6 separate regions of the Homo sapiens genome follow, and regions 1, 2, 3, 4 and 5 are each reported to be linked to region 6. Evidence: microRNA targets listed by miRTarBase, many of them from high-throughput screens and not tested one by one. Region 6 holds a microRNA gene; each other region holds the end of a gene's coding sequence.
Evidence for each region. The annotated mature microRNA hsa-miR-4650-5p reads UCAGGCCUCUUUCUACCUU and lies in region 6 at 3,618-3,636, opposite strand. An mRNA with a match to its seed (bases 2 to 7 or 8) in the 3' UTR can be bound and repressed. Matches are read on the target gene's strand: a 7mer-m8 pairs with bases 2 to 8, a 7mer-A1 pairs with bases 2 to 7 and ends in A, and an 8mer does both.

Region 1: the mRNA of MPIG6B is a reported target of hsa-miR-4650-5p. Seed matches in the 3' UTR shown: 7mer-A1 at 3,679-3,685.
Region 2: miRTarBase lists SLC25A28 as a target of hsa-miR-4650-5p. Seed matches in the 3' UTR shown: 7mer-A1 at 1,259-1,265.
Region 3: miRTarBase lists NSFL1C as a target of hsa-miR-4650-5p. The part of its 3' UTR that is shown has no 7-base or 8-base seed match.
Region 4: miRTarBase lists CD59 as a target of hsa-miR-4650-5p. Seed matches in the 3' UTR shown: 7mer-A1 at 3,263-3,269 and 7mer-m8 at 2,494-2,500.
Region 5: miRTarBase lists PPP1R14B as a target of hsa-miR-4650-5p. Seed matches in the 3' UTR shown: 7mer-m8 at 4,024-4,030.

What each region holds. Positions count from the first base shown.
Region 1 is chr6:31,724,223-31,729,307 of GRCh38, reverse strand. It overlaps MPIG6B (megakaryocyte and platelet inhibitory receptor G6b), which reads right to left. Exons shown (of 6, transcript NM_138272.3): 3 at 5,076-5,085; 4 at 4,681-4,721; 5 at 4,464-4,543; 6 at 2,594-4,338. The coding sequence ends at 4,234. It overlaps DDAH2 (DDAH family member 2, ADMA-independent), which reads left to right and starts at 9. Exons shown (of 6, transcript NM_001303007.2): 1 at 9-443; 2 at 563-662; 3 at 784-857; 4 at 1,016-1,135; 5 at 1,616-1,765; 6 at 1,955-2,268. The coding sequence starts at 147. The coding sequence ends at 2,071.
Region 2 is chr10:99,606,777-99,611,861 of GRCh38, reverse strand. SLC25A28 (solute carrier family 25 member 28) reads left to right here. Exons shown (of 4, transcript NM_031212.4): 4 at 496-1,340. The coding sequence ends at 1,013. Among named protein-coding and RNA genes, the nearest start is that of SLC25A28, 11 kb to the left of the region's middle.
Region 3 is chr20:1,439,019-1,444,103 of GRCh38, reverse strand. NSFL1C (NSFL1 cofactor) reads left to right here. Exons shown (of 9, transcript NM_016143.5): 9 at 193-1,938. The coding sequence ends at 355. Among named protein-coding and RNA genes, the nearest start is that of NSFL1C, 25 kb to the left of the region's middle.
Region 4 is chr11:33,705,332-33,710,400 of GRCh38, forward strand. It overlaps CD59 (CD59 molecule (CD59 blood group)), which reads right to left. Exons shown (of 4, transcript NM_000611.6): 4 at 1-5,012. The coding sequence ends at 4,795. It also overlaps a transcript of C11orf91 not described here. Among named protein-coding and RNA genes, the nearest start is that of C11orf91, 7.0 kb to the left of the region's middle.
Region 5 is chr11:64,240,633-64,245,717 of GRCh38, forward strand. It overlaps PPP1R14B (protein phosphatase 1 regulatory inhibitor subunit 14B), which reads right to left. Exons shown (of 4, transcript NM_138689.3): 2 at 4,572-4,655; 3 at 4,298-4,330; 4 at 3,847-4,190. The coding sequence ends at 4,122. It overlaps FKBP2 (FKBP prolyl isomerase 2), which reads left to right and starts at 463. Exons shown (of 6, transcript NM_004470.4): 1 at 463-500; 2 at 1,752-1,926; 3 at 2,567-2,679; 4 at 2,819-2,865; 5 at 3,209-3,244; 6 at 3,336-3,500. The coding sequence starts at 1,756. The coding sequence ends at 3,397. LOC114841035 reads left to right here and starts at 463. Exons shown (of 6, transcript NM_001370414.1): 1 at 463-1,581; 2 at 1,752-1,926; 3 at 2,567-2,679; 4 at 2,819-2,865; 5 at 3,209-3,244; 6 at 3,336-3,500. The coding sequence starts at 648. The coding sequence ends at 1,445. RefSeq lists enhancers at 1-372, 1-91, 373-1,273, 2,176-3,076 and silencers at 372-1,391, 1,422-1,661.
Region 6 is chr7:72,696,553-72,701,552 of GRCh38, reverse strand. It overlaps MIR4650-2 (microRNA 4650-2), which reads right to left and starts at 3,650; the gene lies at 3,575-3,650. All of the region lies in intron 10 of TYW1B (tRNA-yW synthesizing protein 1 homolog B), which reads left to right.

The sequences.
Region 1 (5,085 bases), not on the chromosome of region 6:
ACCTGGGCGCTCTTAACCACCCCCAACGCCCTTGTCTGCATGTCTTTTTCTCTGTCTCCTCCTTTTCTGTTTCTTCTCCCAGACAGGTGAAGAAACAAGAAAACTAAGAAATCCGAGCGGTTGGAGGGGGAGTCTGTGTGGATGGGATGGGGACGCCGGGGGAGGGGCTGGGCCGCTGCTCCCATGCCCTGATCCGGGGAGTCCCAGAGAGCCTGGCGTCGGGGGAAGGTGCGGGGGCTGGCCTTCCCGCTCTGGATCTGGCCAAAGCTCAAAGGGAGCACGGGGTGCTGGGAGGTAAACTGAGGCAACGACTGGGGCTACAGCTGCTAGAACTGCCACCTGAGGAGTCATTGCCGCTGGGACCGCTGCTTGGCGACACGGCCGTGATCCAAGGGGACACGGCCCTAATCACGCGGCCCTGGAGCCCCGCTCGTAGGCCAGAGGTGAGCGCCGTGGCGCGGGTGTGGTATGGGGAAAGGCAGAAGGAACTGGATGTCGGGGCTTTGGGGAAGAATTGAGGATGGGGGTGTCACAGCTCCGTGCCCTCTTCTCCTATCCTAAGGTCGATGGAGTCCGCAAAGCCCTGCAAGACCTGGGGCTCCGAATTGTGGAAATAGGAGACGAGAACGCGACGCTGGATGGCACTGACGTTCTCTTCACCGGTGAGGCTGGGGGGAGGCATAGGTCTTGGCACAGGGAAGTAGAGTTTGGGAGACTCGGCCGTCTGGAGCCTTGTTTCTAACTCACTCCCGCCCTCAAACCTCCGCGGCCTCCCGGACTCAGGCCGGGAGTTTTTCGTAGGCCTCTCCAAATGGACCAATCACCGAGGAGCTGAGATCGTGGCGGACACGTTCCGGGTGCGGAGCGGGACCAGCCTAGGGAGGGAGGGGGTGCAGGTGGGGGTCGGAAGGGCCTGGGCGCCCGCTGAGGAAATGAGAGGCAGAGAGCAGCCTATGTTTGAAGATACCCCATCACCCCTCCCGCGCCCCTGAATACCTCCCTTCGCTCTCCCTAGGACTTCGCCGTCTCCACTGTGCCAGTCTCGGGTCCCTCCCACCTGCGCGGTCTCTGCGGCATGGGGGGACCTCGCACTGTTGTGGCAGGCAGCAGCGACGCTGCCCAAAAGGCTGTCCGGGTGAGGAGGGGGCGGGGCCAACGAAAGTGGGCGCAGTTCTGGGCCCGGGAGGCCGGGAGCTGGGAGGCTTAGGAAATTAGCCCTAACCCCTGCCCTCAATGGGCTGTCCATCTTACATGAAAGAACACAGGAGAAAATAAGAAGTTACAACAGCAGGACTGGGAACAGGGGTGATTAATTTGCTCTTCCGGAGTTTCAGGAAACCCCAAAGGTGGCACCTAAACTGTGACTCTAAGGATGGGTAGGACAGATAGGAGGGGCTGGGGAAGGTAGGGGGTTGAAAATAACTGCATGTGATTCCAAGGTGGAAATTAGCAAAGGTAACTAAAGTACTTAGTGTCTGACATATCGTAAGCTCTATGTGCTTGCTGTCATTATTTTCCACAAATGTCAGTCCGTCCCCAGCCCTTAGTGGTGGTTGAGCAGGCAGACACAGCTGTGGAGAGGTTCTGAGACTCGAACACTTCCTCTTTCCTCTAGGCAATGGCAGTGCTGACAGATCACCCATATGCCTCCCTGACCCTCCCAGATGACGCAGCTGCTGACTGTCTCTTTCTTCGTCCTGGGTTGCCTGGTGTGCCCCCTTTCCTCCTGCACCGTGGAGGTGGGGATCTGCCCAACAGCCAGGAGGTGAGAGAGGGCAGGAACTCCAACACCAAGCACCATCAGAGAAAAGAGTTTCAGGCTTTCCTAGTGGGAGGAAGGAAGGGTACCTTCTCTAGAAGCCTGGGTGGGGCCACTCTGAGCTGGCTGGAAGAGTGGCCTGGCTCAGCCTGAGGTCTCACTCCCCTCTCCCCACTCCATGTCTTCCCTGTGCAGGCACTGCAGAAGCTCTCTGATGTCACCCTGGTACCTGTGTCCTGCTCAGAACTGGAGAAGGCTGGCGCCGGGCTCAGCTCCCTCTGCTTGGTGCTCAGCACACGCCCCCACAGCTGAGGGCCTGGCCTTGGGGTACTGCTGGCCAGGGGTAGGATAGTATAGGAAGTAGAAGGGGAAGGAGGGTTAGATAGAGAATGCTGAATAGGCAGTAGTTGGGAGAGAGCCTCAATATTGGGGGAGGGGAGAGTGTAGGGAAAAGGATCCACTGGGTGAATCCTCCCTCTCAGAACCAATAAAATAGAATTGACCTTTTAGACTGGGCTGTGACTGGTGTCTTACTGGGGCAAAGGGATAGGGCAGGGCTGAAACCTGAGTTTGGGGTCAGTGCAGGGAAGAAGGCCTCTTATTCAAAAATCTTGTTAGGTACTTATCAACTCATTGCCCAACCATGTCATAGGTACTTGAGCACAAGATGAACAAGACAGAATTTCTATCATGGGAAGTGTGTCCAGGGCAGAGAAAAGAGTGTATGGGTGGATTGCTCACTGAATTTATCTAAATGTTAGATGATTCAGAGACTGGTAGATTACCAGTCCACCCCTATTTGATAAAGAAAAAGAAATGACACTTCCAGGGACATTCATTTTCATTCATTCATTTAATGAGGCTTAGCAATGATATCAAAAGGGTCAGTCTCCTGACGTTGGGGAGCTCACAGTACATGCAAATTTCTTACAAATTGAAATACAGGTTGTCATGGAACAATTTACAGAAGGCTGTTTCTATGAGGGAAATAAAGGGGGTGCGCCCTAGGGCATCAAAGTATATGCAAGGGGTGGCCAAGGAGGGTCACCTTCCCAGAAAAGGCCATACTTGAACTAAGGATAAATAAGAATTAGCCAGGCAGATAGTGTGAAGGAGGGAAAGGGGTAATACAGGAAGAAGGAATTGCACTGGGCAAAGACATTTTGGGGCTAGGGAGAATTCTCTAAGGCTGGCATTTTCTAAGATGTGCATGTGGAATGACACAGGTAAGCCTGGAGAGTGGACAAAGTGCTGTAGTACCTTGTATCCAAAGCCAAGGCACGTGGGCACAGAGCTGAAGCTAAGGAGAGTACTTCAGTTCTGTAATAAGGGCTGTCAGGAGCAGTTATCTCTTGAGTAGGATCTCTCTGACTTCAGGGAGGAAAGCAAGGGTAGGAGGATGAGGTGGGGCTATGGGTAATCCAGGAAGGAAGTGAGCAGAGTACATTCACGTGGCAGCGCTGGGCATGGAATACAGTGTGGGTTTGACAGTGATGTTAAGATAGAAAGACTGGACTTCATGGCTCATTGTGTGGGAGTAAGAGAGAAAGGAGGTCTGCGTGACTCCCAGTTTCTGGGTTGGGCAACTGGGTTGTTAAAGAGAATACAGAGGAGAATTAAGTGAGCAGCTTCAGAGATGACAATGAGTTGGGTTTGACATTCAGAGTGCGAAATGCCTGAGGTCAGTCAGGCAGAATGTCTAAGTGGAAGTTTGTTAATCCCAAATCTGAGATCTGAGCCAGAGAGAGTTCTGAGTGTCATTTGCAGAGGAGGGGGCTGAGGACTGACTGTTGATGAGAGTGTCCCAGAAGAAGAGAAAGGGACAAACCTAGAATGGTGGGAAATACTGTAGGGATATGGAGCAAGGAAGAGGAGTCCAAAAAGAAAACACCAGCAACAAAGAAAAACAGCTTAAAGAATCAGGCCGGGCGCGGTGGCTCACACCTGTAATCCTAGCACTTTGGGAGGCCGGGGCGGGTGGATCACGAGGTTAGCAGATCAAGACCATCCTGGCTAACACAGTGAAACCCCGTCTCTACTAAAAATACAAAAAATTAGCTGGGCGTGGTGGCGGGCGCCTGTAGTCCCAGCTACTCAGGAGCCTGAGGCAGGAGAATGGTGTGAACCCGGCAGGCGGAGCTTGCAGTGAGGGAGATGGTGTCACTGCACTCCAGCCTGGGCAACAGAGCGAGACTCCGTCTCAAAAAAAAAAAAAAAAGGAGCTAGGGCTTGATTGGGTATAGAGAGGACACTGGTGGTGAGGGAGACATGGAGGTTATAGGAGAGATGGGAGTAAGTTTAGAAGTAAGACCAGTGGCAGAGACAGCCTGGAACCCAGGTCTCCCAACTCCCAGTCTAGCACTTATTTCTATACCATGGTGCCTTCCTCTTCCAGGTGAGGAACCAAGGAGGGGAGAGGGATTATGGGGAGCTGGGATCCCCTAGCTTGGGAGGTTTGGAGTAAGGGCTTCCCTTCAAACTACAACTGCATAGATGGTGGAGGCATCAGCAGGGTCCGCTGTGGACAGCCGGCGGGGCCTGCTGAGGGCTAGATGGTCCAGATCCGCATAGAGCAGGCTCTGGAGGAGGAAGGGGAGGAAGACAAGATGGTCTCCACAGTCTTCCTTGGGGTTCAGGCCTTTTTTTTTTTGGTCCATTTTCCTCAGAGATTCTGGCTATCCCCTTCCCATCCCCATGCCCTTACCGGTTCCTGGTCCAGGTCCCCTGGAATCTTGGGCTCTTCCTCCTTTACTGGCCTCTGGGGCTCGGTTTTCACAAGTGGAGCTATGTGGGGGGGACAGAGCTGAAGGATGGAGAGAAGGTGACCAACGTGTCTGCTCCCAGCAAGGGCTCAGACTCAGGAATTGAGGGGTGGGGAGTGGGCATGTAGGAGAAAGAAAATGGGGTGGAATTAGTCTCACCAAATCTAGGGAGTGGTCGAATCGGTTGCGGGGGCAGGCGCCTGTAAGGGACATATGAGTCTTTGAGAACCACCAGTCTTGTCTCACTGGTTCTCCTGGGACTCGCCACGCCAAGGACAGCCCAGCAACTTGAAGGCTCAGACCGGAAACAACTTAGACTCTACCCCACCGACAGTCCAGCCCAGGCTCTAACTCTGCTGCACTTCCAGCTCATCTGCTCTGGTGGGGCTCTACTCACCAGTCAGCGGCCTCGCTCCCACCTTTGACCTCTCCCATTCTTCGCCAAGCCAGGACCAGAGCTCTAGGTCTAGCTCTTTCTTTTGCGAAGGTTCTGGTCCTGCCCCTTCCACCTCTGGTCACTCCCCATTTAACGAGGCCGGGTCCCTCCTGCTCACCTGTGCAGCC
Region 2 (5,085 bases), not on the chromosome of region 6:
TGGCTAAGAATCTTTTCTTTGGTAGAACTTCTGTCTCCTCCCCTCTAGGAGGATCACCATCTCACATTTTAAAAGTTAGGTGCTCTTTGTATGCGAGGATTGGGATTGTTAGGGGCCTGTGTTCGTGATGATCACTATCATGGAGTCATTTCTTGTTGGGAATTGTTAGAGGGTAAGATCAGAGATAGGTACTTAGTTCAAGAAGACTCTCTGAAGCTCCCAAACTGTAGATATGTCCTGTGTGCGAACTGGCTGGCTTTACAGAAGTCCTGATGGAAGTGGGTTTATTGTTTTTTGACTCGTTACCAACCCTCTGCTTACTCCTTCCCCTCAAAAAAGGGAAGCTGACTTCTCAGGTTAGCCAGCAGCTCACTCATACTTTTTTCTCTCTCTATTCCATTGGCTGATCTGCTGACTTGGGGCTCTGAATCTGGATACTCTCCATCACCGGTTGGCTGCTGTCACCATTTCCTTCCTCGTTGATGGCACTACTAGTGGTCAAGCAGAGGATGCAGATGTACAACTCACCATACCACCGGGTGACAGACTGTGTACGGGCAGTGTGGCAAAATGAAGGGGCCGGGGCCTTTTACCGCAGCTACACCACCCAGCTGACCATGAACGTTCCTTTCCAAGCCATTCACTTCATGACCTATGAATTCCTGCAGGAGCACTTTAACCCCCAGAGACGGTACAACCCAAGCTCCCACGTCCTCTCTGGAGCTTGCGCAGGAGCTGTAGCTGCCGCAGCCACAACCCCACTGGACGTTTGCAAAACACTGCTCAACACCCAGGAGTCCTTGGCTTTGAACTCACACATTACAGGACATATCACAGGCATGGCTAGTGCCTTCAGGACGGTATATCAAGTAGGTGGGGTGACCGCCTATTTCCGAGGGGTGCAGGCCAGAGTAATTTACCAGATCCCCTCCACAGCCATCGCATGGTCTGTGTATGAGTTCTTCAAATACCTAATCACTAAAAGGCAAGAAGAGTGGAGGGCTGGCAAGTGAAGTAGCACTGAACGAAGCCAGGGGTTCAGATGACACTGCTGCATCCTGGTCACATTCTCTGTCTCCTGGAATGCTCCCACCTCAAGTGGAGTTAGAAGGAAGGTAGAGGGGCTCTCCCCCAGGATTTTGGTGTTTTGACTAACACCAGTTCCTGCCAACCTCTGTTGCCACCACCTTTCCTTCCAGGCCCTAAGCACGTGCAGCAAAGCACACCACAGCACCTTTGATAACCTCTCTCCATCCTGGGCCTGATGACCTGCTCTAGACTGTTATAGAGGGATAAGCAGCTCATTCCCCTGGTTCCTAATAAAAAGCCTTTAAATTAAATGGTTTCATTGGGTTTGTCTTGCTAAAGGGGAAGTGAAATGCTGTTAACTGTTCTTGACTTTCCTTTAAGCATAAATCAAGGGACCCAAAGGAAAGGTTTATTGAGTATGTCTGTAGTTTTCTGCTGATTTTCATGACAATTTAAGACATTAGTGGTAGGCCCCAAGCAATCTCCCTGATGGCTAGAACAACAAGCCCTTGACAGATCCCAACCAATCAGATGCTCCAGATCCCCACTGTCTTCCCTAGGGCGGTAGCGCAGCACAGAAGGGGCAGATCTCTGCTCTAATTCGCAGCTCTGCCTGCAGCAGTGCTTTACAGTGTGGCACTTGGTTTTCCATTTTAGTTGTGAAACTCAAATTATTCAGTGAAGCTGCAAGTCCTGAAGATTACATGGTAAATAATACATTTCATTTTATTTTAAGGCTTTCACAGAGTACTTGAGCATGTGTGATCTCATTTGAACCTCACAAAATCTCTGAAGTAGGCAGTGCAGGTGTCATTTGTATTTCACAAGCAAGAAAGCTCAGAGGCTGTGACTAGTCCAAAGTCTCACAGTCAGTGCAGAAGTGGGACCCCAGCCCAAGTGTTTTGACCTCACGAATGAATCTAAGCGTGGCTTCCTACAGATGGGAAATGAGTGGAGGGCATCTCACATCTACTGCCATCTACTGAGGAAGCTCCCTGCCTGATGACCAGTTAGGCTCTGCTTGGAGACTTTTCAGAGATGGGGCTTTCCCTGTGCTTGGTGGGTCAGTGTGTTCCTTTTTTTTTTTTTTTTTTTTTTTTTTTTTTTTATATATCACCAGTTATTAGCAAGTTCTTCAGTACATAGAAATGTACCCCTCTGAGTCTTCCACCTATCCTTGTTAGGTCATCTGTCATTCATTCATTAACTATTGAGTGTCTCTGTGGCAAGCACTGGTGTTGGAAATACAATGATAGATAAAAACAATCCCAGCCCTCAAGGAGCTTACTGTCTGGAGAGGAAGATACATGGAAACAGGCAATTACAAAACAAAATGACAGGAGAGAAGATAGAATAAACCTAGGATACTCAGAAGACAGAAGGATACCCAGCGTAGCCTTGGGTGACCAGGGTAGACATTTGGAGGAAGTAACATCTGAGGTGACACCTGGAAGGCAAATGAGCTAACTTGGTGAAGAGGGGAGGGGTTATGTTCTAGGCAAAGACCTGGAGGTAAGAGAATTAAAAAGTATTTGGGATTTGGTGTGCAAGTGGTTTGGTAGGACTGAAACAATCTGGGCAAGACATGCAGCCTGAGAGCCAAGCAGACACTGGGTCTTCAAAGCGATGCTATGGAGTTTAGATTTATCCTGAAGGCCATGCAAAAGCATTACGGAGTTTTAAGCAGAGGTGTGGTGTGATCAGATTTACAATTTAAACAGATCACTTAGGCTCTCTGGAGAAAGGATTAGAGGAGCAAGACTGGACAGGCAGGCCAACTGGTTAGGAGGCTGCTGTGGTAATCCAGGCAAGTGCATGGTGGTCTGAAGCAGGACTGTGGCATGGAGCCGGGAGCCATGTTAGGGTTGTAGAAGCAATAGGATTCGGTCACAGAGTAGATCTCGTCCTCCTCCCATCTGACAGCCCTTCAATATCTATGGAGAATCATGTCTGAATGCACTTGAAAAAAAACTGTCGAGAAACCAGCAGGGTCTCCTAAGCTTTATTTAAGTAGGCTATGCTGCCCCTCTGATTTAGCGTGGAGAGGAGAGATTAATAGTGCTAAGCGGTGGTTGCTGAGTAAAAAGAGTGTGATGATATCATTGTAAAGGTCATTTCAGAGGGTTTGCTAGTAAAAATGTAATTGAGTAGCTGCCTCCCATATGGACTGAGCAAGAGAGCAAAGGGATGGCTGTCAGGACCTAGTCTCTGCGGTCGGCTTTACAGAGCTGTCTGGCATGGTATCTGACACACAGTAGGCACAATGGCAATAAGGCTTATTTTTCAAGAATGGATTGCGGGGTAATTTCTTAAAGATTGGTAGCGGCTAGAGACCACCTCAGCTCTAATGCTGTTCACAAATAATGAGAAAAGAATACAAAAGTGATCTTCCAGCCTCCAGTTGTGCTGTAGCTACTGGAGGACATTTAGTTTGGAATCTGGACAGGACACTAGGTTCTGCAGGTCTCTTGGCCCAGTCACTAGAGGTCAAAGGGGAGATAGAGGCAGAATAATGTGACAGGTTGAACATTAGCAATGCCAGTGACTGGATACCTGGGTCATTTCCAAGGGGCTCAGCAGACCCAGGAGAACTGTGGGTGTTTGGGGGCATCCCCAGGTCCAGAGCCTCTGTGGAGAGCCAGGTAGTTCATGTGACACCTGGAGAATCCAGTACCAAGCCATCATCAAGTGGCCAATTCCTGCACAGTGCTATGTGTCAGGGAAAATGAGAAAATAAGTCACAATTTGGCCAGAGGAAAATGTTCTTCATTGGAGAGCTGAGACCAACATGAGTGAAACAAACTTTTAATAACACAAGACACTATATAGACATGTACTGGATTATACAGAAATTAACAATGAGATTTAGAGACAGGAAAGATAAGTGTAGGCAGAGTAAACAGAGAAGAAGGTGGCTTTGATGAATAGAATTAAAAAATACTTTCGTAAAAGCCAATAAATGTTGAATCATGCTAATTTCATAAAATTTAGAAAGCACAGATAAAAAGAAAATACTTCGAATCCCATTACCCAGAGAACTTGACCTTCTAACAGACAGAGCTTTGCAGCAATGACACGGATAGCATTGCACAGCAGCGAGCTCTAAAATACAGGAGCTGGGGCTGGTCAGCCCTGCCAGGGATGCTATACAGTGAAGTCGAACTCCTGGAGGGTTGCAAAGCAAGATGACCTCTAAGAAGCCTCCTAGATCTAGATGTTCTCAGGGCCAGCCTCAGCCCCACTATCCGGTAACCTGCGTCCTGGTCTCCAGGCCGGATATCTTCAATGCCTGTCAGGAGATGGTGCCAGACTGTCTCACCACTCTGAACTTTCTCTCTCCACCAACCTATCTATCCTCCTTTTGATCATTCAGATTCTACCTACCCATAGCAATGTTTCTGATATTATAAAGGTGCCACAGGGGGCCGGGCATGGTGGCTCGAGCCTGTAATCCCAGCACTTTGAGAGGCCAAGGCAGGCAGATCACTTGAGCCCAGGAGTTCGAGACCAGCCTGGCCAATATAGTGAAACCCCATTTCTACTAAAAATACAAAAATTAGCCAGGGTGGTGGCATGCACCTGTAGTCCCAGCTACTCGGGAGGCTGAGGCACAAGAATCACTTGAACCTAGGAGGCAAAGGTTGTAGTGAGCCAAGATGGTGCCACTGCACTCCAGCCTGGGTGACAGATCAAGACTCTGTCTCAAAAAAAAAAAAAAAAAAGTGCCACAGGGGACTTATTGAATAAGCTATTGATATTATTGAACATTCATACAATGAAATGTGGCATGCCATTTATACTGAGATGATGGAAGAAAATTTAATGATGCGGAAAGATAGACACTGTATTCTGTTATGTGAAAGAAATTGGTTATAGTGAGATCTCATTTTTGAAAATTACAAAAAAATTATACATAGAAAAAATACTTAATGATATATACATCAACCTACTGGATGTGCAGTATTTTGTTATTTCCTGGAATCTTAGACTGGTAAGTGGAGAACAAGTTCTGTTGGAGTCACACACAGTATTCCCTTTATTGCCACCACCGCCACC
Region 3 (5,085 bases), not on the chromosome of region 6:
CTCAAGGAAAATGGAAACAACAGTGAAGGACTCTTGGCAAGGAAGGGACTTGGTCCCACATGCCTGAGCGTAGCTTTCGCTGTTCTGTGGAGAAAGTCAGGAAAGGGGATTTGCGAGGTGTTTAGCTTTCCACAGGGCAGGGGTATGGACAGCAGAGGATGGCACTGCTCACCGCTTCCCCAACTCCTGCAGGATCAGCGACATCCGACTCTTCATCGTGGATGCCCGGCCAGCCATGGCTGCCACCAGCTTTATCCTCATGACTACTTTCCCGAACAAAGAGCTGGCTGATGAGAGCCAGACCCTGAAGGAAGCCAACCTGCTCAATGCTGTCATCGTGCAGCGGTTAACATAACCGCCCAGCCAGCTGCCTGGCCTCCCTCCTGTGTTTCCCATGGCCAGTGGCCATGCCCCATGGGGATCGCCCCTCCTGCCCCCTTGTGCACACCCAGCAGTCCAGTGCAACGTCTCCTCCATAGCTCTGGGTTCTTAGATCTTGGTTGGACGTTTGTTTTCTCCTTAGTTGCATTTCCTGGGTTTTTGTGATGATCAATGGACTTTAATGAAAAAAAAAATAAAAACAACCAAAAAAATTGAAGGAATATCACCAGCATGTTGTACGGAAACTCTCCCACTGAAGCAGGCTTTAATTGCTTTAAAATTATATTTATCTTGGGGCCTGTGGGAGGAAACTTCCTTCCATCTTCTCTGCATAAAAACTTGTGGCACACAATGCTTATTCACTAGTGTGTCCCACCCGCCAGCCCCACAGATGACTGGAGGAAGGAGGGGAAATGTGTAGAAAGAGGCTTCGCCACCACTTGTTCCCACGAGAATATGTCACTTGCCCAGATAAAACTGGGCGGCAGCCAGAGTTCCCTGAAGTGGGAAGTCAGAGCTCCATGCACACAGTGTCTTCAGAAGGTGAAAATAAATATTTCCCTGTGCTCCTTTTACTCAACCCCTGGGGTATCTAATCTTGCCAGGTCTTGGCCAGTTGAGATTCTGTTCCACCTGCCTGCCTGGCCCTTTCCTCCATTACCATCCAGACTGCTCGCCTCCTGGGGATTCTCAGGGGCTCCATTATGGCTTGATTTACTCCACGTGCAGAAGTCTTGAGTGGACCTAGGAGGTAGGTGGGATATTTTTTTTCACTAGGATACAGCTCATGCCAACCCATCCTAAGTGAGTTCAGAATCAGGGTATCTTGCCCTATAAGATAAACAGTCAAAATGCCACCGAGCTGTTCACTAGTGATGTGTGGCAAATCAAATCAACTGTTGAAGAAGGGGTGAGTTTTCTGTGCTACAAGCACCTGTCACTGTTGGTACTTGCAGGAGGCTTCTGCTGGGTATGTTTTGGAAGTGAGTGTCACTACTTGGCTTTGCTTAGCAGGTTCTGCTTCACACTTGTTCTTTGACCTGCTGACTTGTGACTTGCAGAAACATAGGCAGTAGTCCTAGCCTGGTAAAGACCCTCCACCACCCCTATAAGTTTGATTGCTATGCAGGTTTGGGAGAGGAGGCCTATTGGGCTCTTGGATGGAACCCTTTCCCGTATTAAACAAACCAGAGACAGAATCAGTGCTGACTCAGGATCTCCTGGTTTGGAATCGTAATGTGCCTCAATCCTCTTTCCAAGCAGGCCTCACCAGTCTCTTTCTCTTTCCTGCTTCACCCCTGCAATGAGCCAAGAACCAACACTACATCCACCTAGAACTGCAGAAGGGCTTGTGGTTTCAACCAAGACCCATCCTGAGCAAGGGACTTGGCTTGGTGCTTTTGATCCCAAAGTTCCCACACCGGCAGTGGCCTGCTGGGGCAATGGCATCTGTCACGGTGTTTTCTCCAGCAGGTGGAGATTATGGAACCTACATATGGGTCTGGAAAAACTGTACACTGTTGTCACCTTGACCATTAAAAACCAGAATGAGGACAATGGAGTTTTGTACTTTCTAATGGGTTGCTTTGACGGAAACTACAGCAGCCAGCAGAAGTACTTAAGTGCTTCACAAAGGTCCCACTTTACAGTGCAAAACCTTGAGCCCCAGTCACACTGCTAGTAAGTGGTAAGGTACTGCCTCTTCCCATCCAGAGCCCACGTTCAGCCACCATGGAGTGCAGTATACACTCCATCCCTAACTGCCAGGCCCATATACATACACTTGACCTCCCCCTACCTCCTTCTCACAGTGTCTGCTTAATTAATTAGTATATTGCAGAAGAGATTGTAAAAACACCCACTTAAAACCTGTATCATCTACGGTAGTTTGCACAGGGCCCCCAGCACCTCTGGGAAGTAAGCGAGGCAGGTGATCTAACTCTTACCTATATTGTTGATGCAGCCACCACAGTTGAGAGACAGTCCCTCTGACCTTGGACCAGGGATCACACTGGTCTGGTTCCAGGCTGGGGAAGGATGTTCCCAGCCCTAGTTTTCTGTTTTGGGCAGTCCAGATGGAAAGGCCCATCCACCCAGATAGGTTTTCACAGGTTTAGAAGAAAAAGGATACTCAGCCACTGGTTCCGGGGCTTCTGAATTCAGTTCTCAACTGGGGCATTTTGGATCTCCCCAAAAACTGGTTGGTAAGAGAACCTCCTGGCATTAAATGGGCCAGGACAAGGATGCATGTCAGTTCATTGGATATGCCTTGATAGATACCCAAAACTCATCAAAATGAAAAATAGGCAAAGTAATTGTCATGATGCCCTTTCTAAAAGTGCAGTTTTAACTAGTCTTTGCTGTGGGATGTGGGTTGTTTGATCTTGTTAACAATCATGCCCAGCAACCCTGTAGGTAGAGTCTTGCACAGATCCGGCTGCTTCCTCAGTAGAAGGCCAGGGAAGAAGCAGGCATGTGGTCAAGAGCTAGGCATGGCTTTAATGGCGTTCCAAAGTGTCTTCCAGAGGGGCAGCGGCCCTTTTCATACCCATCCATAGGACAAAGCATGCCCTTCCCTGCCAGGAGCTTAAAGATGACTTAGAGCTCATTCAGGGGAAGCAGCTGGTACAGAAATAAGGGTTCCCTGCTGCTCCCTGTCTCCTAACTCCCAGCATTTCAGAGAGAACTGCCAACTCCTGATTCCCAGGCCCAAATAAAAGGCCTTCCTTCTTTAAATGGGCGTTGGGCTCCTGTGTTGAGGGTGTGTGGCTGGGGATCCCAGTCCCCCTCTTCCAGGCCACACTCTTCCCAGGCCAGGACAGGGAAGCAGAGTAGAAAACACTTTTTGACTTGTAGCATCTGACCCAGGTCCCAGTCTGAGCTCCTGCACTGTGACTGTGCCTCTCTGTTTCGGTGGCCTCATCTCATGCCATGTCCAGTCCATCAGCAATCCTCTGGGTGCCCCTGGTCACCCCTCCCCTACGATCATCTGGGCCAGCCTCCGTAGTCACTCACCTATGACTGCAGAATCTCATCAGTCCCCCAGCTTCTGCCCTTGCCCCACCCAGGCAAAGGGCTTCTTTGGCACCATTAACCACAGCCTGCCACTCCCATCCTTTAACGTCCTTGGGAGCTTTCCATTACCCCTGGAAACTTCTAAGACCTGCAGAGCCCCATAGGCCCTGGCCCCTTCCCACCACCCTCCATCCCTTTGACCTGCTTCATTTTTCTTCTCTCTGCTCCATCTAATATGTACTCTATTTATTAACGTGCTTGTTTCCTTGGTCCCCCCACTAGCTTATAAACTCCATGAGGGCAGAAATGCCTGTTCCTCACTCTTGTATCCGGAGCAGGTGGCATGGTGTCTGACGCATAGTAGATCCTCAACAAGTGCGTGCTTGGATGAACCTGTGAAATGGAGACCAGACCTTATCTAAAAGGATGGAAGGCAAGAAGGCTTTTAAAGCACCCCCATGTGGTGCCTGCTTGGGAACTGCAGTCCCTCCTCCCAAAGCAGGTTCTCAGCCATGAGGGGGCGTCCTAAAGGGCACCTAGAGCCACAGGGTGTTCCTGCAACAGGTGCTAAGAAGATGTGTCTGGGGTAGGAAGCGGGTGTGACAGGAATGTCCCCAGTCCCTTCTTGCCCTGTCTCAGCTGGACCAAGAGGTTTATTAAGGGCCAGTTACCCTCCGTGTTGAGCAACTGAGAACCTCAATGCCAGGACTAGGACTTGCTACTACTAATCGTAATAGCAGCTGCCATCATTTGAGCACTCACTTTGTGCCAGGCCGTTTGTGCCTTAACAACCCAAGGGTACCATGGTTAGCCCACTATGGAAGAAGTTACTGAGGCTTAGAGCGGTGATGGGACTTGCCTGAAGCCACACACGGAGTAAGAGGCATTTGAATCCCCAACTACCTGAACGCAGAGCCACAGCCCTTGACCCCGAGGCTCTACTGCTGTGAAAAAGGCAGGCACAAAGGCAGTGGCAGGAGGGACGATTGGGTCGGGCAGGGAGGGACAGGGAAAACGGAAGCGGACACCCTTGAACTGGGTTGTGAAGGGTGATTAAAGGTTGGTTCTCTGACGAAAAGGCAAAAAAGTTGTCCTTCCTCAAGAGACAAACTCAGAGGGCATGTGGAGGCTTGGGGCAGGCTTTGAACTTAGGTTCCATCTTATACCAGGCATGACCTTAGACAAGTCACCTAAGCTTCTCTGAGCCTTGGCTTCCTCATTCAGAAAACAGGGATAATGGTAGTTCCTACCTCTTAGACTATGGGGATTAAAGATGTCTGTGAAGCCCTTGACGCATAGGAGGAACTTTATGAATGACAATAGGTGCTGCTGTGTAGCCCTTACCATGTGCCGGGCGCTGTCAAACACTTGAGCATGATCTCATTAATTCTCAACACTCCTGTGAAACAGGTGCTTTTATTATTCACATCTTTACAGAGAATGAAATTGAGTGCCTTGCACGTGGTAGACAACCTGGCCATTAAACGTCTATTGGTTAAATGATCGGAGAATCAGAGAGGAGAAAGCAGTCAAGGACACACTACTAATAAATGACAACTGAGTTTGAACCAAGGGCCATCTAACTCCATCCTCCTGGCCTGGCCTCTGTACCATGAGCTTATTTTAAGTCAGCTCTGGGTGAACCACCTGCAGCAGGAAAAGCTCAGGCTTAGGAGTCAGCCTGCTGGG
Region 4 (5,069 bases), not on the chromosome of region 6:
TGGAAAGCTCTTAAGAACTAGGTTTAGAAGGTGCAGAGACCAGGGCAACTTCAGGGATCCAGGTAGCAGGAAGGAATCGGTAGCCTCTTTGGTATGGCCACTATGGTGGTAGACACTGTCTACCTTGTTTGCTGAGTCTTCTGGCTTTCTTCCACTCTTCCTGCTCTTGGACATCAGACTCCAGGTTCTTCAGCCTTTGGAATCTAGGACTTGCACCAGTGGGTTGGTTGCCAGGGGCTCTTGGGCCTTTGGCCACAGACTGAAGGCTGGCTGCACTGTCAGCTTCCCCAGTTTTGAGGTTTTTGAACTCAGGCTGAGCCACTACTGGCTTCTCTCTAACCCAGCTTGCAGACGGCCTATTGTGCGACTTCGCCTTCTAACTGTGGGAGCCAGTTCTCCCTAATAACCTCCCTTTCATATATACATATATCCTACTAATTCTGTCCCTCTGGAGAACCCTAATACATGAATTATAACTCTAAGTTTCAGTTCTGGCCATAGCATTATGTCACACCAACACCAGCATCAATATTTTAGGTTGCCTAATTAATGTATCTGTAAACCTATAGCCAGCTTGGGTGGGGCTATTGAGAGTCAGCACCAGCACTGATCATATATAGGATCAGCCTACTGGGGTTGGCCACGTTGTATGTAGCTGCGAATAGCAAGGAGGGGAACAGCAACATCCCTAGGGAAACCGATCACAGAAAGGCAGCTCACTACCCCACAGTAAAAAGAACCTTGAGTTTCCCAGTTCAGTCCCCTGCTGGGTGCATGCTACCCCCCTCCTCTCCCAGAGGCTCTGGACCTACACAGCTGCTGAAAAAGAGAAAATGTCCTTACCTACAATGAACCATCACAGGCACCCACCTAGAAATTAAGGTACTGTGGTCATTTATCTTATCCCAGAATAACAGGAGTGTGTATAAACAGGAAGCTTTAGTTTAGATAAATAAGATTATCCATTACAAAAATTTTATATTGAATAACCTGTAAGTAATTTGAAAAAGAGACTTCTGGCTAGTTTTCACTTATGTCCAAGTCAGTGGGGGTAAATGCATTGTGATTCACTGTAGGTTTTAGACTCTTACAGCCTTAACAACCTTGTAAATCCATAACTAGCATCTTCCTATCTGGCAGACCCTTTACAAATGCATTATCTCAAGCCTCACAACAATTCTTTGAGGTAGACATAGAAAGTGAAAGTTCAGAAAGGGTTTAAAAAAAAAAAAAAAAAAAAACTTGTCCAGAGACATAGCCAATTAGTGGAAGAGGGTTTGAACCCAGGTTCCTAACTACAAAATCCACGGGTTTAACTGCTGCTCTCCTGAAATGAAATATCTACAAGAAGTAGCAGGCATTGAGAAACAGATGGGAAGATAGTGTTTTGATATGATTTTCTGTTTACAGGAAGGCCTAACTACGTCCTGTTCACCTCATGCTATTGGGTAACTTTCCAGTAAAAAACAATTGCACTTTGTTTTCTTTTCCAAAAAGAGGCAGAAACTGATTTCTTCAAAGTAAAAAGGCACCAGGGACCCATTCTAGACTTTCCAAAGCTAGGCACATATTAAAGAGAGTATACAAAATAGGCAGAGAAGTAGACTTGCTGACCTGAGGAGCTGAGTGGGAAGCATGGACTTGCCAACTTACCTAAGTGACCTTGAGCGATCCAGCTAACTTTGCATAGTTTCCTCTTGTGTAAAGTGAGGTGCAAGTACAGATGAAAATGTATATAAAACATAGAGCTTAGAATCCTGTACCAGAAAGCTGCCCTCATCACAATGAATGTCAGTCAGTACTAGCTCCAGCCAGCTGCTCAGCCCATCAAGAATCCCTCAGGGGGATCTGTTAGCATTAGTTCAGATCTGTTGGCAGCAACAGAAACTAATGCGAGCTAGTAGACTTTGAACACTGCTAAAGAACTTACCAAGAGAACTCAGATGTATAAAAGTGGTTAATTCTGTCAAGAGGCCCAAAGTCTTGGGCAGGCTCTTATTTTTTCAGGACACACATAAGACATGGGGGCTAACTGCAAGGACACAAGAAAAATATACCCATACCTTGAAGCCCCCAGTACATTCAAGACCAAGTTTGGCAAATAGATTAGCATCTTTCAGGAAATACCATGAGCTCCACTTATCTACTCATCAGGTGTTCCTTGCACCCCTAGCTCATCCCCCCAAGGGGACAATCCAATGGGCTTATCACCACCCAATACTGAACACTATGACAGTTCCTGTAAATCCAGATGAGTGGAGGGCACAGGGTATTGGCTCTCGAGCAGAGAGCCAGTAGGCATGACTGGTGTTCGATTCCTAACTCCCCTGCTCCCTGGTTTCATTTGGAACCAACTGAGACAGACACATGAATCCCTCTTCGTTGATCAGGGTCAGTTGGAGGATGTAGCTGTCGGCCTGGTAGCCAGGTGGGCTTGCTAATCCTGCACCTCTACCTTAAGCTTACCCAGCGTGAGGCCAGGTTAGAAAGTCACAGGCCTTGGCAGCAGGCAGAGAGCCTTTACTGTCATAGTGAAGAGCTTGCCAAGGACAGGACTGATTCTTCCTCCAGCCTCACCTATCGGGGCAGTCATTGTTCCGCTGTCAGGAGGAGAGGGGCCAGAAGGGTCACATTGAAGAAATGTGACATGAGGGTGGAGGTTCCTGTCCAGCACTCTTACACTCTCTATTTAACCTAGGCTGACTCACTGCAGTTGGCACTAATTTTCTATTGCCACAGCCCTCTCCAGCCAGGAGGGCCTGGAGTACCTGGGGTGCTGTTTGCCTAGTACTATAAATGTCTTTACATTACAGTATTGCCTTTGGGTCCAGGCACTCAACCTTGTCTATGGCATGAGTCACAGCAACTTTTTGCAGAAAGCAACCCCAAAGTTTAAGGCCATTTATATGACCCTTGTTGATTTGGACAGCTTAACAGCCCCATCTCCCCATTTAGTGGCACTCAGATTTTGCTTTAGAGGACTACCTTCTTCCCAGTGTAGTCTGGCCAAAAAGTGGGTACATGACACAAGATAGCAGTAAGCCAATCTCATCCTAGAATCTCAATCCTGAGAGAGGCTTCCAAAACTGTCGACTCCTGGCTTTCTGGAGTGTGGCTGAATTCCCCACCCCCCCGCCCCCAAAAAAGTTCCCAGAAATTCATTTTCTGCTTAAATTCATCAAAATTGTTTCTCATTCCTTAGAACTCACATGAAATGAGCTTCTTTGCTCAGCCGGTGGCTGTGGGCATGGTCAGTACTTCCTCAGGCCAAAAAAAAAAAAAAAAACCTATTGATGTAAGGAAAGACACTGAGCTAACAGAGAACACAGAGCACCAAGGTAATGCTAAGTTTTGATAAGCAAGTTTCTATTTTCCTATGTTCAGGGAACGGCATCAACAGAAGAAAGCTGGCACTGCTCAGGATGTCTTCTTTCAGTTGCTACCATTAAGCATACTGCATATCCTTTTCGGCCATAACCACATTCACCCACTTGTTATATTTCATTTTCAGAAAAGCATCATTCATTGCACTCGGTTTGTCCAACAGAGTATAATCAAGGGTTTTTTTTCAACATTAATCAAGAAATTCCTCCATCTGCAAAAGTCAGCCTATGCCATTAAATACAGCCAAGATCATAAAATACAAATGTCATTAGGTCTACTGAATCTTGAGATTCATTCACTAGAATACACAGGGAAAAGGAAAAAGTTTGCCCTTGTGAAAGGTGTGTATCATTTTTTAGAAGAGCTTCTGAAAGCCTCAAACATCTGTGAGTGTGCTAAGAGCCGTTACAAAGGTATTTTATACAATCTATGCTGAGTCAGCTAGGAGTTAGCAGGAGGCTGGATGCAGATGGTAAAACATACCCCTGCAGATCTGTTGTTATTAAGGATGACCTTTGGAAGTCTCAAACTGTAACCACAAAGGGTGTCCCCACTGCATTCATACTATATACACACATACCTGAACTGCCTTTCTACCAGTAACATTTAAAATAAGCACACTTAATACTGCCAGTCACATGTAGTAGAGTGTTCACTCTGTAACTGTGTGTGGCAAAGCCAAGATATCCTACCATTCCAATAAAAAAAAGGCAAGGAAATAGCTTTAACACACCATTGATGTATGCTATTACACTTTTCCAGTGGAAGATAACAAAGCCCATATAAAATTTAAAGACAGAGGAAAAACTCGATTTTCAGCCACTTGTACCTCTCTAAGTTTTCATGCCCTGCTATCTGGAACACTTCCCCACTTCCCTGCCAGAAGTCCTCTAGCTCTGCATTAAGGATCTTGTTGTCCCTGACTGACACCCACATATGGAACATTTGGCATGCCTCCATGGCAACACGGGATCCCTGAAGTTTATGAAAGCGTTCCATGTGAGAGAGGATGCTCATATACTCCTGCCCCACCCTCCAAAGATGTACTAATGATGCTAACTGACTACATCCAAGGAGCCAGAGGAAAAATAATCTGAGGGCTGCAGAGAACCCACTCAAGCTGTCACTGCAAAGCTGGTCTTCCCAAGAGCAAAGGAGGAAGCATGCAATCTAGTTCAAGTCACACCTACTTCACTCTTAGACTTCTTCCTTCAAGTGGGGCTTCCCTGCAAACAGGACTGGTCTTCAAAGTCTCCCAGAGCCCCTCTATCTTAGCCAGGTTGCTCAAGCTAATTTTATTCTTTCCCAACAGGATCCATTTGGAAAATATCAAGCCTTTAGAATGTGGCAGCAAGAGAAAGCGGACTACGCAGGAACGGGGAGTTTGGGAGAAGCTCTCCTGGTGTTGACTTAGGGATGAAGGCTCCAGGCTGCTGCCAGAAATGGAGTCACCAGCAGAAGAACTGTTTTCTCTGATAAGGATGTCCCACCATTTTCAAGCTGTTCGTTAAAGTTACACAGGTCCTTCTTGCAGCAGTAGTACGTTAGCTCATTTTCCCTCAAGCGGGTTGTGACGTCGTTGAAATTGCAATGCTCAAACTTCCAACACTTGTTATACACTTGTAACCCTGTGGGGAGACACACACAAGGGTAAGAAAGTAAGTGGGAAGAGTTCTGTATCTGCT
Region 5 (5,085 bases), not on the chromosome of region 6:
GGTGGGTGTCATCAAGCCCGTGTTACACGCCTGTATTGGATGACAAATTCTACCAAGCACACAGCCGACCGGGAGTTCAAACGTGAGTGTCACTGTGAAGCCCAGGCTCCACAGCGACTGAGGGCCGTGGGCCATGATGAGGCCCGGGAAAACAGGAGTGCTGTGGGAGAGGCTGGGGGCGACTTGAAATGGCGCCTCAAGACCCCCTCCGGGAACCCACGCCCGCCTGACCTTACTATCACCTCGGCCGGAAGTGTCTCCGGCCTTTTCGGAAGTCACTTTCACCTAACCTTACAGACTACCGCTCCGCCGGAAGTGACGCAGGGCAGCGGCGTCGCGGGGGCGGGGCTCGGGAAAGACCCGTGCCAGCGGGCGTGTGGCCGCGGGTTTCGCACGGTCCAATAAGGGAGGGCGGCGTGGCCCGGCCTGGTAGCGACGAGGACGCGCCTGCGCAGAGGCGGCAGCACCACCGGGGTTGACTCCGGGGGCGCGGCGAGGAGGTGAGCGGGGGCCACAGCCCGGGCTGGGGGGAGCCGGGGTGCAAGAGGGCAGGCTGGATCAGGCCGGGCAGAAGCGGACCGGGCTCCGAGTGTCAACGAGAGCTAGGTGACGAGGAAATTGGGGGTGGGGGCCGGAGCTGTCCGGAGATGCCGCAGGGGGAGGGTTCTCACGCCGCACGGGGCGGAGTCCTGGGACTCGGGGCGGGACGTGGAACCGGGACGGGTGGGACCTCCGAGCTGGTGCCAGTGGAAGGCGGAGCCCGGCGGCGGGGGGCGGAGCTAGGAGGGTCGGGGGACGGAGCCTGGCTCTTGAAGGAGGAGCTGGAGGAGGTGAAAGGCGGAGCCTCGGGGTCGGAAGCAGAGGGGGACGGAGCGGAGGCGCTGGGGGCGGGGCTTCAGCCGGTGAGTGGCGTGGCTACGGCTCCGGAAAAGGGGTCTAGTTCTGTCGAAGGCGGGGCTGCAGGCCCGGGGGCGGTACCGCGTCCTCCGAAGGGCGGTGCCAAGGAGCCAAGTGAGGAGCCTGGCCCGAGTAATGGCCCCGGGCGTCCTCGCGGGGGTGGTCTCCGTGGTGGCCGGGCTTGGGGACGCCGTAGGCCGAGAACTCCACCGGGAGAGGTGGTGTGGGTGGAGCGGGCTCGGCGGCCAGCAGACACAGGGCCAGTCTGGGTGCCCCGGAGACCCCCAAGGGCTCAGAGTTGGGGCGGCGCCCCGGGCGGAAGCACAGGGCCAGGCTGGGGGGTATCTCCCGAGGACCCGGGCTCCTCGGAGCCACCCAGTGGGGATGTGTGGGTGCCTCGGGGCCGGCCCCCTGCAGCGGCCGCAGAGGTGTTGGTGTGCTGGACCGGGGGCAGCTGGGTGTGGCGTGAGTGGGGCCGCCCAGTCGGGGCAACTGCAGTGCAGCCAGATAGGGTCTGGACTTTGCGTAAAGGGACAGGCGGGAACTGAAGAGCGGAGGTGGGGACTGGGAGGGAGGGAAGGTATGGGGGTGAGCAAAGGGGCGGGTCCCTGGCTGCTGTGGCCTCCCCTGACCCCCTCCCCCCGCTGCTGGGGTCCTCGGCCAAGCCCCCTTCTCACTGGACTGGTAAGTGTGGCCCCGGAGCCCGGGGGAGAGGGCGGTGACCCGGGACAAAGGGGATCCCCCGGGGCAAGGAAGATACAGTGGCGGTGGAACCCTCCTGTTACCTACCCGTGTTCCATACTCTCCCTGCCCTCCCCCACGTTCAGTCGGTCGGTCGGGGTCTGTGCCCACAGAGACATGAGGCTGAGCTGGTTCCGGGTCCTGACAGTACTGTCCATCTGCCTGAGCGCCGTGGCCACGGCCACGGGGGCCGAGGGCAAAAGGAAGCTGCAGATCGGGGTCAAGAAGCGGGTGGACCACTGTCCCATCAAATCGCGCAAAGGGGATGTCCTGCACATGCACTACACGGTGAGTGGGTTGGGCGGGCCTTTTGGGAGTGGGTGGGGCTTCCGAGGACCAGAGAGTGCTTGGGAGTCTGGTTCTCCATAAGCCAGGTAGGTGACCTTGGGCAAGTCCCCTCTCGCCTCTAAGCCAGTTTCCATGGTTCTGCCTTGCCCTTGCCTACTGCCCAGGTGGGCACCAGCAGGCAGTGACAGTGTACTGTGAGCTGCCCAAGGCTCTGTCCTCTTAAAGAACTATGACCAGCTGGGCGCAGTGGCTCACCCCTGTAATCCCAGCACTTTGGGAGGCCGAGGCGGGTGGATCACCTGAGGTCAGGAATTTGAGACCAGTTTGGCCTCATGATGAAACTTTCTCTGCTAAAAATACAAAATTAGCCAGGCGTGGTGGCGGGCGCCTATAATCCCAGCTACTTGGGAGGCTGAGGTGGAAGAATTGCTTGAACCCGGGAGGCAGAGGCTGCAGGGAGGCGAGATCACGCCGCTGCACTCCAGCCATGGCAACAGAGACTCCATCTCAAAAAACAAAAAGGACTGACCACCAGGGCTGTGGGTGGGCGTGGGGGGGCAGCTTGATGGGGAAAGCAGCTGAGGGAGGGGGTGTCAGGGGTGGTCCCCTCTTCCTCACTGGCCTTCTCATGGTTCCACAGGGGAAGCTGGAAGATGGGACAGAGTTTGACAGCAGCCTGCCCCAGAACCAGCCCTTTGTCTTCTCCCTTGGCACAGGCCAGGTCATCAAGGGCTGGGACCAGGGGCTGCTGGGGTGAGTCATGGGGGAATGGGCTTGGGAGTGGGGGCGTGCATGGCCACCGCCCAGGAGGTAAGCTGTGGGAGGCAAGCCCCAGGGATACAAGACAAGGGCCCTGGGTGCTGCCATGGGCTGAGCATGTGTCTTCCTGCAGGATGTGTGAGGGGGAAAAGCGCAAGCTGGTGATCCCATCCGAGCTAGGTAAGAGGCCCCTCCTGAGGGTGCAGAGCGAGTTTGGGGTGTGTGACTGGGAAGGGTGAAAGCTGCTTCAGCTTTTCATTGGTCTTCACCGTATCCATTCATTACAATACATGCCTCCTCCAAGTTTGGCTGTGTCTAGCAGTGAGTACAGGGCAAGATCATTGAAGCACTCAGCTGTAGTGGCCCCACTCTGCCCTTGCCAGGCCTTTGGCACCCCCTTCCCATCTCCATTACCCTTCTCCATTTCTGGCCTTCTTGCTGAGAGGGGCGGAACACTCTCCCTTTGCCCACACTGGAAGGGAGCTTGGCCATCACTGACTGTTTCTTTGTGCATCTTCAACAGGGTATGGAGAGCGGGGAGCTCCCCCAAAGATTCCAGGTAGTAAACCTTTTGATACCTCCCATCACCTGCAGCCAGCCCACCTCCCTGTGGCCCTGGTTGGCATTTTGACTCCCCTTCTCCCCTACAGGTGGTGCAACCCTGGTGTTCGAGGTGGAGCTGCTCAAAATAGAGCGACGAACTGAGCTGTAACCAGACTGGGGAGGGGCAGGGGGAGAGGCCCCCATCAGGGACCAGACTGTTCCAAAAAAAAAACAAAAAACAAAAACAAACAAAAAAACACTTAAAAGCCCAAGGAGTAAGCCTGTGTGTGTTTGTGGGCCCTGAGAGACTCAGAGACCTCAGCTCCAGCATACCCCACCACCTTCTCCTTTCCCGACTGTGGAGCCTTGGGGGTCTAGGCTCAATGACATGGTGGCCCTTGCCCAGAGAGAAAGGAGTGTTCCTGCCTGCCAACAGCAATACTGCTCCCCCCACCCCCACAGCTCCCCAGCCACTTTCAACTCCTGGTCTGGGAGCCAGCACTGGGCTATCGTCATGGCTACGTGGCCCTTAGGAAGGCCTGTGGTCACCTGGGGAGAAGCTGAGCTGGCAGAAGTCAAAGAGCAGTGTGCCCCCCTAAAAGAGACCAGCCGAGCCTGTTAGCTGCACCAAAGGCGTATCCTAGCTTTATTAAAGGGCCCGCGCCGCAGAGTCAATATAAAAACACAAAAAGTCCCATCAGTTTAATAACAATAAAAAACCCCAAAAGTGGAAAACTGAGGGGGCAGGGGAAGAGACCCCTGGGCCAGGGGCACGAGGAGCCCTGCTCATGGCACCAGGCCTGGCCGCAGGGTCCCCCGGTATTGCTGTTGCTACGAGGTTGGGGGGCAGCGATTGTCCTGTGGGAGCCACCGTTCTCCTGGGTCGGGGACCGTCACTTCTTCTGGGGTGTGCTCAGCTTCTGCATGCCCCGGATCTTGTCCAGCAGGCCAGAAATGAAGGCCTGGATGGGGTGGGAGGGTAAACATTAAGGAGACCAGACCCCAAGATGACAGGAGCCGGGCTCCCCTCACCCTGCCACCCCCGCCAGCCCCCCAGGAAATCTCTTACCTCTGTGGGTTTGTAACAGTCAACCAGCAGCTCCTAGCAGAGGATGGGGGAGGAAGGATAAGTGAGTCCTCAGGAGTGGGGGCCTGGAGCTCGCCTATACCCACTTCCAAGAGACTGGGGCCACCCTGAGGCACAGGAGATGCCACAACAACCTCACAGCTAGGCATTGGCCCCATTCTGTTGAGGCAGGAGCTGGGGCTTGAGGGCCTGGCTCCACAGCCTCACTTTCCCGGGGCAGTGCCTCAGGCAACCCATCGCCCCCCAGCCCCCTCACCTTGACCCTGGCAGCCCGGGCATCGTCACTCTCCATGTCCAGGAGCTCATCCACGTCAATCTCCAGTTCTGGGATCTCCTCTTCCTGGGGTGGGGGTGGGGGAGGAGGGAGAGACATAAGCCTGAGTTGGAGAGAGGGTGTGAGAGGGGCTCTGGGTTGAGGCCCCTGCCTACCTCGGAGGAACCCAGCCCTCTGCCCAGCAGACAGAACAGCAGCTGCTCTGGGGAGGAAAACAGATCAGGCCCGTGCCAAGGCAAACTGCCCAAAGCGGGGTGGGGGGGGGAGCTTCCTGTCCCTGCCAGTGGGCACGGGGGGTGACAGACAAGGCCAGACAGCCAGGGTTGGGGACCTTGGGCTGGGAACCCAGCAGATGTGTCTCCCCAACATCCGGGCCCCCCATCTCACCAGAGCACCGGTGGGTGCAGCTGTCCCAGCTTATCATACCCCCCTCCCCTCCCCCAAACACCTGTCACAGCTCCCCGGGAGTGAGGAGGAAGTGAAGGCTGAGGGGTCA
Region 6 (5,000 bases):
GTGGCTCATGTCTATCATCCCAGCACTTCGGGAGGCTGGGACGGGAGGGTTGTTTGAGGCCAGGAGTTTGAGACTGGCCTGGGCAACATAGTGAGACCCTGTCTCTACAAAAAATTAAAACATTAGCCAAGTGTTTTGGTGCATGCCTGTAGTCCCAGCTACTGAGGATGCTGAGTCAGGAGGGTTGCTTGAGCTCAGGAGTTCAAGATTGCAGTGAGCCATGATCATGCGACTGCACTCCAGCCTGGGGGACAGAGTGAGACCTTGTCGCAAAAAATAAATAAAAAGAAAATGTCTAGTGTTTAAAGAAACTGACAAGATATACAAAGAAACAAGAATGTGTCCTATACAGTTGAAAGGAAACAGAATAGAATCCATCTACAAGGAAGCCTAGATGTTGGACTTACTAGACAAAGATTTGACATTGGCTATTTTAAATGTGTTCAAAGAACTACAGGAAAGCATTTTCTTTTCTTTTTTTTTTTTTCTGAGATGGAATCTTGCTCTGTCACCCAGGCTAGAGTGCAGTGGCACAATCTCAGCTCACTGCAACCTCCGCCTCCCCGATTCAAGCAATTCTCCTGCCTCAGCCTCCTGAGCAGCTGGGATTAGAGGCATGTGGCACTCCTGGCTAATTTTTGTATTTTTAGAAAAGACAGGATTTCATCTTGTTGGCCAGGATGGTCTTGAACTCCTGACCTCAAGTGATCTGCCCCCCTCGCCCTCCCAAAGTGGTGGGATTACAGGCATGAGCCACCACACCTGGCCAGAAAAACATTTTCAAAGAAACAAAAGTATGAAAATGATGACTCATCAAATAGACTATCACTGAAGTCTCTCAGAGACCCATGGGGCACCTTCAGGCATGCCAACATATTTATAAAGGGAATTCCAGAAGGACAGGAGAGAGAGAAATGAGAAGAAAGAATATTTGAACAAATACTGACCAAGAACTTCACAAACTAGAATTTGGGAAATTCACAAATATGTGGAAATTAAACAACACACTGTTAAATAACCAGGATATCAAAGAGAAATCACAAAGTGCATTCTTTGTAGTTGTTAGAAAATCAAAGAAAGGTCCAGGCGTGGTGGCTTACACCCGTAATCCCAGCACTTTGGGAGGCTGAGGCAGGTGGATCACCTGCAGTCAATTCAAGAACAGCCTGGCCAATGTGGCGAAACGCTGTCTTTACTAAAAATACAAAAAATTAGCTGGGCGTGGTGGTGGGTGCCTATAATCCCAGCTACTCCGGAGGCTGAGGCAGGAGAATCGGTTGAACCTGGGAGGCAGAGGTTGCAGTGGGCCAAGATTGTGCCATTGCACTCCAGCCTGGGTGACAGAGCGAGACTCTGTCTCACAAAAAAAAAAAAAAAAAAAAAAAAAAAAAAAAAAAGTGTAAAAGCTCTTTATGTATTGATATGGAATGATTTCTACAAGTTCACAATCTCTTATCCCATGTGCCCAAAAGTGTTTCAGAATTTTAGAAAGACAATACAGTTTATCCACTGTATTTTATGGAATATCTCCACCACCCTAGAGCCACACACATGTAATTAGTTCTACAATAAAGTATGCTTAGTCACAGAAATGGAAAAATTTGGCCAGGCACAGTGGCTCACGCCTGTAATCCCAGTACTTTGGGAGGCCGAGGCAGGCAGATCACCTGAGGCCAAGAGTTTAAGACCAGCCTGGCCAACATGGCGAAACCCCATCTCCACTAAAAATACAAAAATTAGGCAGGTGTGGTGGTGCGTGCCTGTAGAACCAGCTACTTGGGAGGCTGAGGTAGGAGAATTGCTTGAACCCGGGAGGTGGAGGTTGTGGTGAGCCGAGATCACGCCCCTGCACTCCAGCCTGGGTGACAGAGCAAGACTCTGTCTTTAAAAAAAAAAAAGAAAAGAAAAATTAAGAATACAAACAGCTTTGTAAGTCAGATTCTACTTTGAGGTAAGTATGTCTCCCAACTTAGAAAAGCAACCTTTCGGTTATTAGAGCTTTTTGGATTTTTAAATTGTGGTTAAGAGGTTGTTGGATTGGTGATAAGTGGGAGGCACAGGGGAGCCAGATGCAGAACGGTGCACTGTGCTGGCTTTTTAATCCGTCCATCACACTGGAGCCACGTGACTTTCATCAGCACTGATCTGACTGTGTCACTGGCTACATAAAACTTCAGTAAGCCAAACCTAACCCTGGCAGGACATGAGACCTGGCTGCAGGCATCCCCCAATTCCATTTGCCATGTTAGAGCCATGGGGGGATAGTTTGTGATTCCTTTATCCTGCTGCATCTCACAGCTGCGGGCCTTTGCATTTCTTCTTTGGACATCCCTGGAAATGATCTCATTCTCTTCCTGATGAACTCTGTGTCCTTCAGAGATCAGCTTTGACTTTGACCTTGTTACGTCTTTTGTATGATTTTGCCAAGCAAAATCAACTCACTCCTCCATTTATACCCATTACATTTTCCCCACCTTAGTCATGGCGCTGCGTGGTGGGACTCTCATCCATCTTCTGTTCCCTCCAGAATGTAAATATTAAGGGCTGAGCCTCTTGGCCTCAGTGTCCAGTTCGTAGTAATCCCTGAATAAATGTTGAATGAAGTGCATAAGCCCCTGAAGAGAATTAAGTTCAGAATTTCTTCCTGAGGACTTGTTGTTTTGGCTTCTCTTAGGACTTTGCAGTCAGAATCTGCATTTCACAGATCATCCGTATTCTCTTGGATTTTTCATTTATGGAATACTGTTTGTTACATGTAACCGCTGTGACTTGAACACTGAGCCACACTGTGGATTTTGCCATCATGGTGCAGGGTTAGGAGAAAGGCTCTGGGTTCATCTCTGGACTTGAATCTCCTTGATGCTTACTGTTTTTCTTTTCTTTCTTTCTTTCTTTTTTTTTTTTTTTGAGATGGAGTCTTGCTCTGTTGCCCAGGCTGGAGTACAGTGGCGTGATCTCGGCTCACTGCAGCCTCCGCCTCCTGGGTTTAAGTGATTTTTGTGCCTCAGCCTCCTGAGTAGCTGGGATTACAGGCATGCGCCACCATGCCTGGCTAATTTTTGTATTTTTTAGTAGAGATGGGGTTTCACCATGTTGGCCAGGCTGGTCTCGAACTCCTGACCTCAGGTGATCCTCCTGCCTCAGCCTCCCAAAGTGTTGGGATTACAGGCATGAGCCACTGTGCCCGGCCTGATGCTTATTCTTTATAGATCCTTGCACATGTTACTTAACCTTTTGAACCTCAGCTTCATCGTCTCTAAAATGGGCATAAGTAGCAACTACATGGTCATTTTATTGTGAGGATTCAGTGAACTGATCAAGAAGGGTAAAGCACACGGCAGAGTGTGCCAGCTCGGTGAGTGGTAAATAATTCTCTCCTTCTCTTTCACCCTCCTCCTCTCTTCCTCCTGAGCTATTTGGCTTGTTCTGACAGCCCCAGATTGTCTTAGAGATTTAGGTTTTAATATCATTGCTTGTTTGGGTCACTCTGCTTATTTTTTTTTATCCCAAGGAGGAGCTTCAAAGTCACTGTTTACTTGAATTTCTTACAAACATAAATCTCTCTCCTTTTTTTTCCTGCAGATATGTCAGGCCTCATTCTACCTTCTGAGCCTTGGAAGGTAGAAAGAGGCCTGATAATCTCTACAGAAAGGCAACATGGGAGAGGGATTTTTATGTTCATCAGCACATTTTTATATATGATAATTCTTCACTCAGAGATTTAAAATTAAGATGAAGGGTCCTTACAGTACTCACATCAAGAATCCTGGGGCATTTGTACAGAGGATTGGGCTTAAGGTTGTCTATCTTAAATATTGTCTTTTTTTGGGAGAGCAGAGGATATCCTTTTTAATTACTCCCAGCAGTGCTGTGAGATTCTCAGATACAGGAATTATTATGGTGATTTTGATGATGTAAGACTTTTTTGCTTTTTGGGAACATTTGTTATCCTGTATAGAATAGAGACAGATAAGTGACTCTACTGGGAGCCTCATTATCTCTTCTGGGTGAATAGAGACCAGTGTGAGGCAGAAATAAGATCCCTAAAGCTCAGAAAACATCTCCAAAAGTCTCTTTGCTAATTTTGAGCCCCTTAGAAATGAGCTCTGTAATTCCTGGGGACCTTTTCCTCTTCTCCATTCTTCCTCTGCTCCTTGACGAGAGATCTGTAGACTTCCTTGAGTGCAGCATCTCAGACATCTGGTATTGACTAGAATTCCTTATTGGACTTCCTTGGGTGTAGCATCTCAGACATCTAGTATAGGCTAGAATTCCTTAGTAGTAGTATCAGTGTCCAGGCCTTCCTATTTTGTAAATGATAGAGGTTTGTAAAAGGAGTATGGCCTTTGGAATGTACTGTTCATAATCTTAAGTAGTTATGGAAGCATAGTGAAAAGGTCAGGGCAGTTCTCATTTTGCATCAGGAAGCTTTTGACAAAGTCCTGTTAGTTATCAGATGATGATAGCCAGCAGTAACCATTAAGACAGTCCTTTTTTTTTTTTTTTTTTTTTTTTTTTTTTAAGTAGAAATCCAGTTAAGGAAGCATAGCTTGTCTTTTATTAAAGAGGCACTCAGCAAAGGGGTGATGAGACAGAATGCTGTTATTACTGATGCTTTTGTTTTACATTTTCAGTAATTAACGTGCTTTGCTCAGTAGTGACACATTACCTGAACTTCAAAGGATCCCCTTAGTACATCGGTATTGCAGAGGCATTAAAGCAATGAGAGCCTGCCAGGATCTTAATCACCTCTGTCCTACATTTGGTCAGAGCCTCTCCACTTTTAACAGAAGTGAACAGAAGTCTAGACACTTGTGATTTTTCTATATATCACTAAGCCACATCATTGCAAGCATCTGTTTGGCCTATATTCCCTTAAAAATTCTGTCTGCTGAAATCAACAATATCTCCTAAAAAGTAGCTTTAATATCTGCCTGTGTGGCTGGATAAAAAGAAAAACAGGATTCTTGCTCTTCAAGATCTTACACTCAAAGATTGAT